3 separate regions of the Homo sapiens genome follow, and regions 1 and 3 are each reported to be linked to region 2. The links are microRNA targets in miRTarBase. Many come from high-throughput screens and were not tested one by one. Region 2 holds a microRNA gene; each other region holds the end of a gene's coding sequence.
Evidence for each region. Region 2 holds the annotated microRNA hsa-miR-6880-5p (UGGUGGAGGAAGAGGGCAGCUC, at 2,763-2,784, opposite strand). A microRNA usually pairs through its seed, bases 2 to 8, with sites in the 3' UTR of a target mRNA and lowers its output. Matches are read on the target gene's strand: a 7mer-m8 pairs with bases 2 to 8, a 7mer-A1 pairs with bases 2 to 7 and ends in A, and an 8mer does both.

Region 1 (4,000 bases), not on the chromosome of region 2:
TGTGCCTCAATATTCCCTAGTCTGAAATTTCCCTAGTAGTTTCACAAATGAAACAGTGAGTTGGCCATGAAGAGAAAAATCAAGTTAAATAGAATTTTGGCTGGGCACTGAGGCTCACACCTGTAATCCCAGCACTTTGGGAGGCCGAGGCGGCAGGATCACTTGAGGTCAGGAGTTTGAGACCAGTCTGACCAACATGGTGAAACCCTGTCTCTACTAAAAATACAAAAATTAGCTGGGCATGGTGGCACGTGCCTGTAATCCCAGCTACTGGACAGCTGGCAACCAAGGACGTTGGATAAAGAACCTCAACCAAGGTAGGGGGTTAAGGAATGAGACAACTCGTAAACAGAATCCGTGGCCATGGGAGAGGTGTGGAACACAAGGGGTTCCTCCTGCAGGAACTGTGCTCGAATCCGTGGCCGCACCAGAACAAAGAAGGGAGTTGCTTTTTTGTCCCACTCAATTCTGACACCATTTAATGTCATCCAAGGGGCAAAAGACCACACTGCAAAGCAGCAAGACAAGGTGTTTTTATTGAGGTCTTAGGAATTGCAATTTGGGAGACAGATTCAGCTAGAAGCCACTTGTGTTCTGAAGAGAGAGGGTAGAGGAGGGGTTTTTAAAAAAAGCTGAGGGTGATTAGACAAGTTGACAAGTTGTTTTGAAAGAGGCAACTGGCTTAGTACAAAAATCCATAGTTTATTGGTTGGTGCTGTTGAGGAGTTGTAGTGCTGGTGAAATAAAATTTTCCAGGATGCAGTGGTCATCGCAATTTGGCCCAATTCAAAGGTTCAAGGTAAGCTCCTGTATTGTTTTTTTTTTGGAGCTTTTAATTTTTTTTCAAGTTGCAGGTCATGTAGGGAGTCCTTTTTAGAATGGCTTCCTCCCTCCATTTTAGAGCTCTGAACCAAAGTGATGTCATTTATTTTATTTTATTTATTTATTTTTTAAGATGGAGTCTCACTCTGTCACCTAGGCTGGAGTGCAGTGGTGCAGTCTCGGCTCACTGCAACCTATGTCTCCCGGGTTCAAGCGATTCTCCTGCCTCAGCCTCCTAAGTAGCTGGGATTACAGGTGCACACCACCAGGCCCAGCTAATTTTTGTATTTTTAGTAGAGTCGGGGTTCACCTTCACCATGTTGCTAAGGCTAGTCTCAAACTCTTGACCTTGTGACCCACCTGCCTTGGCCTCTGAAAGTGCTGGGATTATAGGCGTGAGCCACCATGCCTGGCCTTTATTTTATTTTTTGAGGCAGAGTTTCACTCTGTCACCCAGGCTAGAGTGCAGTGGCATGATCTTGGCTCACTGCAACCTCTGCCTCCCCGGTTCAACCAGTTCTCCTGCCTCAGCCTCTCGAATAGCTGGGATTACAGGCGGCTGCCACTACCCCCAACTAATTTTTCTATTTTTAGTAGAGACAAGGTTTTGCCATGTTGGCTAGGCTGGTCTCGAACTCCTGACCTCGGGTGATCTGCCCACCTCGGCTTCCCAAAGTGCTAGGATTACAGGCGTGAGCCACTACACCCGGCCCAGAGTGAAGTCATTTTTCTATATCATGTTTCACACTTGCTTAATGTGTGGGGGAAACCCCCTCCCCCACATATCTGGTATCAGAAGTGTGAGAGTACACTAGGAGAAACCTCCTGAAGTGCTGGGATTACAAGTGTGAGCCACCATGCCCAGTCTAATGTGTTTCTGTAACTCCAAATCCTCTCTGAAACAAGATAAAGAATAGATTTTAAAATGTTTAAAAAAGACATGCTGGCGGGCGTGGTAGCTCATGCCTGTGATATGGTTTGGCTGTGTCTCCACACAAGTGTCACCTTGAATTGTAATAACCCCCATGTGACAAGGGCAGGGCCAGGTGGAGATACTTGAGTCATGGGAACGATTTCCCCCATACTATTCTCATGGTAGTGAATAAGTTTCATGAGCTCTGGTGGTTTTATAAATGGGAGTTTCCCTGCACAAGCTCTCTTGCCTGCCGCCATGTAAGACATGACTTTGCTTCTCATTTGCCTTCCACCATGATTGTGAGGCCTCCCTGGCCACGTGGAAATGTGCGTCAGTTAAGCCTCTTTCCTTTGTGAATTACCCAGTCTTAGGTATCTTTATTAGCAGCATGAGAATAGACTAATACACTCCTATAATCCCAGCATTTTAGGAGGCTAAAATGGGCAGATTGCTTGAGCCCAGGAGTTTGAGATCAGCCTGGGCAACATGGAGAAACCCTGTCTCTACTAAAAATACAAAAATTAGCTGGGCATGGTGGTGCAGGCCTGTAGTCCCAGCTACTCAGAGGCTGAGGCAGGAGAATCTCTTCAACCCAGGAGGCAGAGGTTGCAGGGAGCCAAGATTGTGCCATTGCACTCCAGCCTGGGCGATAGAAGGAGACTTGTCTCAAAAAACAAAAAACAAACAAAAAAAAAATTAGCTGGGCAGGATGGAGCGCGTCTGTAATCCCAGCTATTCGGGAGGCTGAGGTGGAAGGATCACTTGAGCCTGGGAGGTCCAGGCTGCAGTGAGCCATGATCATGCCACTGCACTCCAGCTTGGGTGACACAGTGAGACCCTGTCTCAATAAATAAATAAAGAAATAAAAAATTAGAAAGGAAAAAATTTTTAAAAAGATAGGGTATTTAGTGATGATCACTGAAGTACTTTGATCAAAATTAACTGATGTGCCAGTTTTTTGACACCTTTATTCATAAGTCAATATATTTGTCAGTTTGAATGTTATACACATGATAAAATAGATTATGAGAAGTATCATATTTACAATAAGAACACTATTTTATATAACTGACTCACCAAATATGCAACCTCTTGCAACAATAACAGAATGGACTCAACTCCATCCTTTGAATAGACCAATTTCATGATTCTCCTAAAAAGTTTTGAGTTGAGTATAGTTCCTTGTTGCTTCTCTCTGTGATCCAGAGCTTAAGAATCAATCCCTGGAAACCAGCCACTGGAACCAGACCTCTCCAGAATTGAGAAGAGACAGCCATAGAAAAAAGGACACAAACCCAAAAGTCTTGAGCGCTGTGCCATATGCTTGATTTCAGAGCATTCAGGCACTCAAGGTCAAGTGTGGGGCCATATATATATATGTCCTGTCATCTCAAATGCCACAACGGCTACAGTTAGCAGGATATCAGAGAGAGGAGGCATATCGTGGAGGAATGAATCAGTCCCAACAATTATGTGAGCATTTCTAAAAATTCAATACCAAGGATTCTTGAAAATACAAGTTTACAGACGGAAGCTATACAGCTAGCCATGAACTGAAGTGCATGTGCAATATCAAGAAGGAGGAGCTGTGCTTAAGAAACCACGCACGTCTTATTTATCTCTAATTTTAAAATAATTCATTCTCTTGTTGGGTATGCAAGTGAGCAGTGGAGAAAGTGGAGCATCTGCAATACCTGAAATTAAAAAAAAAAAAAAGGGAAAAAGAAAATTAAAAGTCATCACAGGAGGATGGATTTGAGTCAGTTTAAAAATGGCTGAGATTAGAGGGTGGATCATAGATGCCCCTCCTCCCTATTAAGTACAGAAGCAGAAGATGCAAGAGAGAGCAGGATGGGCTAGCAGACTAGGGTGATGGGTGAGCTCAGAAGTAATTAGCAGATTATAAGGATGGAATGGAGGCATGTTGTTAATTTTTCTAGCTTATAGAGTAAGCTGACCACTCACCCGCTGGTGCTAAGGATTTCAATGCTTCCAGAAGATGTGGGCTAGAGAACTTTATTAGGCATCGGAGGGGTTCTTCCCTCTCAGCCAAGATGCTCCCATTTAAACCACTTTTGAATTTCGTTTCAAGCTGTCAACAAACATTTATAAATGACTATTAAACATATTGTATAAATACGAATGGTAAAATATAATGAAATCATAATGATACGTTTCATTAATTCTTGCCATTAAGAAATACAGGAATTAACAGGGGTGGGGACCATTTAATCTGCTAACTGCAAACATAGAGGGCAGGTC
Region 2 (4,000 bases):
CGGGCCGGGGCACCATGGTCCGGGGGCGGGAGGTAGAGGTCACTGGGTGGGCGGCGGAGGTCCAGGACGGGGCAGCTGGCCCCAGGGAAGGAGTAGAGGGGGGCGGGCAGGGGTGCGCTGAGCTGCTGTGGGTGGTGCCGGGTGTAGTCCTGTGTGATGACCTCCTGCAGGCAAGTGGGGGGGCCCAGAGTCAGGCAGCACTCTCCTGACAGAACCTTCTGGGGGTGGGGAGGGGCTAGACGGAGCTCGGGGCAGAATCCTGGGTGGGGCCAGCTTCCTGGGTGACTGTGGACCTGCCCGCCACCCTCTGGGCCTCCGTGTCCCAGTGTGCATGGGAGTGGGGCTGTGGTCAGCGGTCCCAAGCTGGTAGTTGGCAGATGGCTGATGAGACCAGCCCATGACACTGAGAAACCTGGGCCACCAGGAAGGCCTCATTGCCCGTGAAGATGCCATCGGCTCGCATCACAGGCTCCTCCCATGGATTAGGGGGCGGTGATGGTGCCGGTGCTCGGGGCTTTGGGATCTCACCCTCACCCACGCCCTGGATCCCCCCAGCGCCATGCCCTGGATCCCCCAGCCACCCCGCCAGGACAGAAGGGCTGTGGGGTTCCCCATCCCCTCTCCAGGCCTGGTGCCCCCAGGTGCAAAGGTGACAAGCAGCAGCAGAGAACGCGTAGTTACACTGATGTGCTGGGCCAGGGTGACCACCCGCTGGTGACCTTTGACCCCTGGGGCGGTCTGGAGCAGCGGGCTGGACGAGGGCTGGCTCTCAGGCAGCGGCCGCAGGTGTGGGAGGTGGGCGGCCTCCCCGCCAAGCTTCACGGGGCCTGCAGGCAGAGCAGAGCTGGTCAGGGGGTGTCTGCTGGCCCCAGGGCTGCTGGGCCCAAATCCCAGCCCCATGCCTTTGAGCCTCATGATCCAGCCAATTCCTTGGCCTTTAGGCACCTCTGTTTTCCTATCTGCATGATGGGGCCTTGAGGGTCCTCACTGTGCAGGGCTTCGGGGGCCTGGGTACTGGGTGGGGCGTACCTGGCTGCTTGGGCCGCAGCTCCCCCTCCAGGTGGCTCTTGTCGAGCTCTTCCAGGTGCTTGGGGAGCCCCTTGTCGTGGGTCAGACTGGGTGAGCTCACAGGGCTGACGGGCTCCACCCCTTCGGGGCTGTAGCTGCTGCCGTGGTAACCTAGGGCAGGCGGGGGGTGCAGAGTCAGGCACCGGGCCCAGGGTTTCGGAGCCCGAGGGGCAGGGCTGCCCTCCCAGCTGGCTGGGACCCCGGGGGGGTCAAGGGGAACCCAAGCTAGGGGTAGGGTTTGGGCTCCCAAAGACAGTAAGGCAGAGAGGGGTGTTGGGGAGAGACAGGGAGGCCAAGGGAGAGGTGGAGAGAGATGCAGAGCCCGGGACAGAGACAGACAGAGAGGGAGACACAGAGAGAGATTAGGCAAGAAGGGACAGAGATGGGTTCAGGTGGTGGAGGCCGGGCGAGGCCAGCGTGAGATGGGGGCAGCATGGGTCTCTGGGGAAGGAGTGTGTGGGGCGGAGTGAGAAGTGGGGGTGTGGCTGGGAGTGACCCTGGGTCCCCGGGGCCCCGCCTGGGCTATAGCCTCGGCCATCCCAGTCCAACAGAGAGGAGCCATGAACTAGGGCCAAGGCAGGGGTCCAGAGGCAGAGGGCTCCCCTTTTTCTGGGGTACAGGGGCTGGGGACAGGGCAAGATGCAAGAGCCAGACCCAGCTCCTCCTCGACAGCGCAGGTCCCTGCCCCGCCTCAGCTTCTCCTTGCACCGCCTGCCTCCACTTCCCCCAGTCCGACAGCATCCAGGCAGCCGGCAGGTGGGGGCGTAGGCCCGAGCCCTCCCGCAGCCCCATCCCTGCTCCCTGGACACAGGCGCAAAGAGGGAGATGGGGGCGCAGTCGAAGTCAGAATCACAGATCCATTCATTAAAGAAAAAAAAGCAAAAATCCAAAAAAAAAAAACCATGGTAAAATGATGTGCAAATGATGAGCGCCCCCAAACCAGAGGGGCAGGCGCGGCCGGAGTAGTCGTCAGCGCGTGCAAACCGGCGAGGACGGATGGGCTTCAAAACAAAATACCAAAACCAACAACAAAAAAAACGGGGGCCAAAGTAAAAAGCAGAGATCTGAAAATATCTTTGGACCACGAGACGGGGTGGGTGCGGGCCGGAAGTCTTACCATCGCGAGGGGAGCCGTTGGCCAGCGCACCTCCTTCTCGCGCCCCTTTATCGTGAGCAATTTGACGCATGATAATCGCGTCTATGAAGGTGGCCGCTGTCAGGGTGGTCTTACCCAGAGAACGGAGTTCCAGTTCCTGGATGGAAAAGGGTTTACTTTGAGTCTTTTCCCGGTGCGGGTCCGAGGCCGAGGCAGGTGGCGCCGGCGGGTCCGGGCTGGCGTGGTGAGGTGCGAGGTTCTTCGCAGGGGTGCGGGCGATGGTGGCGTGGCCAGAGACAGGAGGCACTAGGGGCCGGGGCTCCGAGCCCTTGCTGGGGGAGGAGGCGGGCTCCAGCCCGGAGCGGGCTGGGGGCTTGGCGAGGAAGGCATGGCCGGTGTCTGCTCGGGGCCGCTCTGGCCGGGCGACCCGGGGGGCCTCCTTGGGCAGCAAGACGGGCTCCATGAGGGTAGGGTAGACCCCATCGAGGGTGCCGCCCAGTGGGCAGTGGGTGGCAGGTGGGAATGTGGCAGCCGGGCGAACGGGTGAGGAGGTGGAGGTGGACCTGGGGGAGGAGAGAAGGCGGTCAGGCAGTCATGGGAGCTGCCCTCTTCCTCCACCACCCTCGATGAGTCCCCATTGCCCTGGGATAAATCCACATCCCCTGCTGCTCCCAGAGTGAAACTGCCCTCCTGACTGTAACCTGCCAGACTCTGTGCGTCATGGTTTGACCCATCCCACTCATTCGTTCATTCATTCCTTGCATCATTCCAAAACTTCTGATTAAGCAGCTACTAGGTGCCAGGCACTGTTCTAGACACTGTGAATACAGCGGTCATAAAACGGATGCAAGCATCTTACCATCTAATTCAGAAAACAGACTACGATCACATTAACAGATATCCCAAGCTCTACAGAGCCTGGTAACTGTGTGGAGGTAGTCAATGAGGTACCAGGAGAGAACGGCAAGGAAGCTGAGGCAGGGCTAGGAGGTCTTCAGGGAGGGGGCACATGAGGGAGCTGGGCCTGCTCAGGATACCCGAAGAGCTAAAAAAGCCACGTGAGGAGTGAGAGAGCAAGGGGAAGGATGCCAGGGGGCGGCCAGGGTGGGCGTTGAGAACAGAGAAAGCTGCTGTTCCCAGCTCTGTGAGTGAGAAGCTGGGGCACAGCTGCCCCTGCACAGGGCTGGGGCTGGAACAGGAGCCGGCTGCTCCACCCACGTGGCCTTCCCGGAGCCCTGCGTTTCCATGGGGGCACCCCCATCTCTCGCTAACTCTACCTCCCAGAGCCTCATTCATGAGCGGGCAGTGGGCAGGCACTCGTTTTCTCCATTATATTTTTGAATCGGCTGTCACGGGCATATCCCACAGAGCCTGTGTGCGGAACCCTGCTCCCCACAGCCAGGGATTAGTGCTTCATGCACCTGCTGGGTCTGAGTCAGGGGTGACAAAGTCGCCACTGCTTTTGGGAAACGATGCCATTTTTCATAATTGAAATAATGATTAGGGGAGGTATGACTTCAGGCATCCAAGCGGCAAGTTGGGGCACAAGTACTTTTTTGAATGAAAATTCATTTTGGAGGAGTAAGTTGCCTCTAAATAGGTCCTGGAGGCTGAGTGCGGTGGCGCACGCCTGTAATCCCGGCACTTTGGGAGGCTGAGGCAGGCAGATCACTTGAGGTCAGAAGTTTGAGACCAGCCTGGCCAACGTGGTGAAACCGCATTTCTACTAAAAATATAAAAATTAGCCGGGTGTGGTTGCACGTGCCTGTAACTGCAGCTACTTGGGAGGCTGAGGCAGGAGAATCACTTGAACCCAGGAGGTGGAGGTTGCAGTAA
Region 3 (4,000 bases), not on the chromosome of region 2:
TATTTTTAGTAGAGATGGGGTTTCCCCATGTTGCCCAGGATGGTCTCGAACTCCTGACCTCAGGTGATCAGCCTGCCTCAGCCTCCCAAAGTGCTGGGATTACAGGCGTGAGCCACTGCGCCTGGCCTCTTCTTTTTGTTTTTGTTTTGAGACAGCGTCTTGCTCTGTGGCCCAGGCTGGAGTGCAGTGGTGCAATCACAGCTCACACAGCAGCTCAACCTCCTAGACTCAAGCTATCCTCCCGCCTCAACCTCCGAGTAGCTGGGACTACACGTATGCGCCACTACACCTGGCAAATTTTTGTATATTATGTAGAGACAGCGTTTCACCATGTTGCCTACCCCTGTCTCCACTGCTGCCACCCCTTGCCCAGATGGCACCAGTGCCTGGGTCCTTCCTGGGCTTCCTGTACCCACTCTCCCAGTACCCATTTGTCTGCCCAACAGCCAGAAAAATTGAATTAGAAACATCCAGCCAGTCTTTGTACAAAACCTTCCCATTAGCCAGGCATGGTAGCTCATGCCTGTAATCCCAGCACTTGGGGAGGCTGAGGTGGGCCGATCACTTTAGGTCAGGAGTTTGAGACCAGCCTGGCCAACATGGTGAAACCCCATCTCTACTAAAAATACAAAAATTAGCCAGGTGTTGTGGCGTGTGCCTGTAATCCCAGCTACTCGGGAGGCTGAGGCAAGAGAAACCTGAACCCAGGAGGCAGAGGTTGCAGTGAGCCGAGATCACGCCACTGCACTCCAGCCTGGGTGACAGAGCGAGACTCCCTCTCAAAAAACAAAATAAAATAAAATAAATACAAATTGGCCGGGTGTGGTGGCAGACACCTGTAATCGCAGCTACTCGGGAGGCTGAGGCAGGAGCATCGCTTGAACCCAGGAGGCGGAGTTTGCAGTGAGCCAAGATTGCACCATTGCACTTCAGCCTGGGCGACAGGAACGAAAAAAAAAAAAAAAGAAAAAACAACCTTTCTATCTCCCTCCCTCCCTCCCATCTCATGCAGTAAAACCCCAAGTGCTGGCCCTGCCTGGTCAGCCTCCCCACCAACGGCCTCGACCTCCACTAGTTTCCCCTCACCTGCTCCTCCCTGGCCCCTGGCTTTGCTCAGACCTGTGGGGCTCACTCCACCCTGGGGCCTCTGTTGTCCCCTCTGCCTGGATGTCCTTCCCCCAGATGGGGTGAGGAAGGGAGCTCTGAAAGGCTTCCCTAGCCGCCTTCCTTAAATTGCAACACTGCGTCTTGCCCACAACCCCACACTACTTCCTGCCCCGCTTCCCTGTTTTGTTTCTCTCTGCCAGACTTACCACCAGTGAACATGCCATGTCTTCTTATCTGTTTTCTTGTTGTTGTTGTTGTTTTGACAGGGTCTCACTCTGTCATCCTGGCTGTACAGTGGTACAATCATAGCTCACTGTAGCCTTGAACTCCTGGGCTCAAGCGATCCTCCTGCCTCAGCCTCCCAAGTAGCTGGGACTACAGGTACACACCACTATGCCCAGCTAATTTTTAAATTTTTTTTTTGAGATGGGGTCTTGCTCTGTTGCCCAGGCTTGAGTGCAGTGGCACGACCACAGCTCACTGCAGCAACCATGGCTCATTGCAACCTTGACCTCCCAGGCTCAAGTGATCTTCCCACCTCAGCCTCCCAAGTCAGTGGGACTCTAGGGCATCCACCACCATGCCTGGCTAATTTTAAATGTTTTTATAGAGGCTGGACATGGTGGCGTGTGCCTGTAATCCCAGCTACTTGGAAGGCTGAGGCACGAGAATCGCTTGAACCCAGGAGGTGGAGGTTGCAGTGAGCCGAGATGGCGCCACTGCACTCCAGCCTGAGTGACAGTGATACTCTGTCTCAAAAAAAAAAAAAAAAAGTTTTTGTAGAGAGAGAGGTCTTGCTATGTTGCCCAGGCTGGCCTCAAACTCAGAGGCTCAAAGGATCCTCCCGCCTCAGCCTCCCGAAGTGCTGGGATTTATAGGCATGACCGCTGTGTCCAGCCCTATCTGTTTTCTCTCTCCTACCAGAATGCAAGTTCTAAGGGGTCAGGGGTTTGCTGTTCTTTATGTTGGTGTTCCCAGCACCTAGAGCAGGACTTGCCCGTAGCAGGGGCCCAGTGGATACTGGTTGAATGAATGACGTGGGGCTCTGCACATTTGGCTCAAACTCCTGCACCTGCCTCTGGGGCTGACTCTTGACCACCCAGGTTCACTGTGGTTTCCACCCTCCAGCCTGCTCGCTGAGATGACGGCCTGGGTCTCCCAGATGGGGACTTTGGGCAGCCTTCAAGGCCCTCTGGGGGTCCATCGTGCTTCCCAAGCAGTAGACCCAGCCTAGGCTTTGATGTCTGATGTCTGACCACTGGGGATTCCATCTCCTCCTCCCCTTACTTCAAGATGTGGCCTTGGGCAGGTGGCTTAACTGCTCTGTGGCTTTGGGTGCTAAGAGATGGTGCACGTGTGAGCGCTTAGCGCCGCACCATCTCACTGGCCTGCGGTGGCTCCTCAGCGCGTCTCAGCCACTGTTACATTTCCCAACGTCCCTGCCTCCTGTCTGTTTCCAGCATTGACCGAGTGCCTGCTGGGCTGAGGCTTTGTGTGCAATGTCTGTTTTTTTATTTATTTATTGAGACGGAGTCTCGCTCTGTCACCCAGGGTTGAGTGCATGTGATCTTAACTCACCGCAACCTCCGCCTTCAGGGTTCAAATGATTCTCCTGCCTCAGCCTCCCAACTAACTGGGACTACAGGCACCCACCACCATGCCTGGCTAATTTTTTGTGTTTTTAGTAGAGATGAAGTTTCACCATGTTGGCCAGGCTGGTCTCGAACTCGTGACCTCAGGTGATCTGCCTGCCTCGGCCTCCCAAAGTGCCGGGATTACAGGCGTGAGCCACCGTGCCCGGCCGTGTGTGCGATGTCTTCTCTGAGAGGTGGGCACCAAGTGAGGAACTAAGTTCTGGGAGGTTGTCACTTGGTCCAAGGTCGCAGCCAGGAGGATGCAGTGGAGTTGGGAGACCCACCCGGTGCCCACTTCTTTGCCCCTGAAGTCACCAGAATTCCCTGCCTGACGCCCCTGGCCAGAACAGAGGAACAGAGTCGCCAAGCTGCCCTCTTGGAGCACCCATGGGTGCACCCTGTAGCCCCCACCATGGCCCCTCCACCCACACTCTCGGCTGTTCCCTTGGATTGGGGGTCCTGCAGCTTGGCAAGACCTCCAATCCTTGGCCCACGGCAGCTGGAGAGCAGGGGCTGTACCTTTCTTCTTGGTCTGCCCTAGGCTTCTGTGGCTGCCACCTCCCCATTCACGTAATCCGGTTCCCCGTCCTCCTCGTCTGGGCTTCCCACCGGGCCAGGGGATGCTTCTCTCTGGAGTTGCCCTGTGGACCAGCGGGCAGACAGGTCATCGAGTGGTTCACATGGAGACACCCATGACTGCTCCCCCAGACTCAGACCCCCAGACTCCACAAAACAGCCCGCGGGAAATGCCACGCCCGACAGGTCCTGGCGGTGTGTGTCTGTCCTGTCTCTGGGATTTGCCGGAGATCGTCCTGCTGTGAGAGCAGGTGAATGCGTTACTCCATGCATGCAGCTGGATGGGGCGGCCTGCCCGGGAGGACCTGACCCCACCCTGGAGGCTGGGCGGCTGCCAAGGGCCGTCCTGTGTGGTTCAAGGTCTCTGCAGCTGCTCCTGCACCCAGGCATCACTGCGGGGTTAGCTGGACTGGCTGGAGGGAAGCCCACTTTCAGCCTGCCCTTCCAGGCCAGTCCCTCAAGCCTGCCCTAAGTGGACCACCCTGCCTCTTCTCCCGGCCACCTACCCATGACCTTCCTGGACTCGCGCCACTGATGGATGGATGCTGAGTTCTGATAATCCTCAGATTCCTCATCTTCTTCCGGGGAGGCAGAGGGACAGAGACCAGAAGTGGGGCCAGTCTTCAGGGCCAGTGACAGGCTGAGGTCCCCTCTGCAGAGGCCACCTATGCCCTCCTGCTGGG

Region 1: miRTarBase lists CENPN as a target of hsa-miR-6880-5p. Seed matches in the 3' UTR shown: 7mer-m8 at 1,868-1,874.
Region 3: miRTarBase lists LAT2 as a target of hsa-miR-6880-5p. The part of its 3' UTR that is shown has no 7-base or 8-base seed match.

The regions. Positions count from the first base shown.
Region 1 is chr16:81,028,001-81,032,000 of GRCh38, reverse strand. It overlaps CENPN (centromere protein N), which reads right to left. Exons shown (of 11, transcript NM_001100624.3): 10 at 3,704-3,830; 11 at 516-3,432. The coding sequence ends at 3,350. The region is part of intron 2 of CENPN-AS1 (CENPN antisense RNA 1); the gene reads left to right. Among named protein-coding and RNA genes, the nearest start is that of ATMIN, 5.8 kb to the left of the region's middle.
Region 2 is chr12:124,334,454-124,338,453 of GRCh38, forward strand. MIR6880 (microRNA 6880) reads right to left here and starts at 2,789; the gene lies at 2,728-2,789. It overlaps NCOR2 (nuclear receptor corepressor 2), which reads right to left. Exons shown (of 49, transcript NM_006312.6): 40 at 2,300-2,727; 41 at 1,030-1,179; 42 at 682-827; 43 at 1-164. RefSeq lists a silencer at 2,001-2,181.
Region 3 is chr7:74,224,021-74,228,020 of GRCh38, reverse strand. It overlaps LAT2 (linker for activation of T cells family member 2), which reads right to left. Exons shown (of 14, transcript NM_032464.3): 12 at 3,824-4,000; 13 at 3,261-3,382. The coding sequence ends at 3,279. Among named protein-coding and RNA genes, the nearest start is that of LAT2, 16 kb to the right of the region's middle.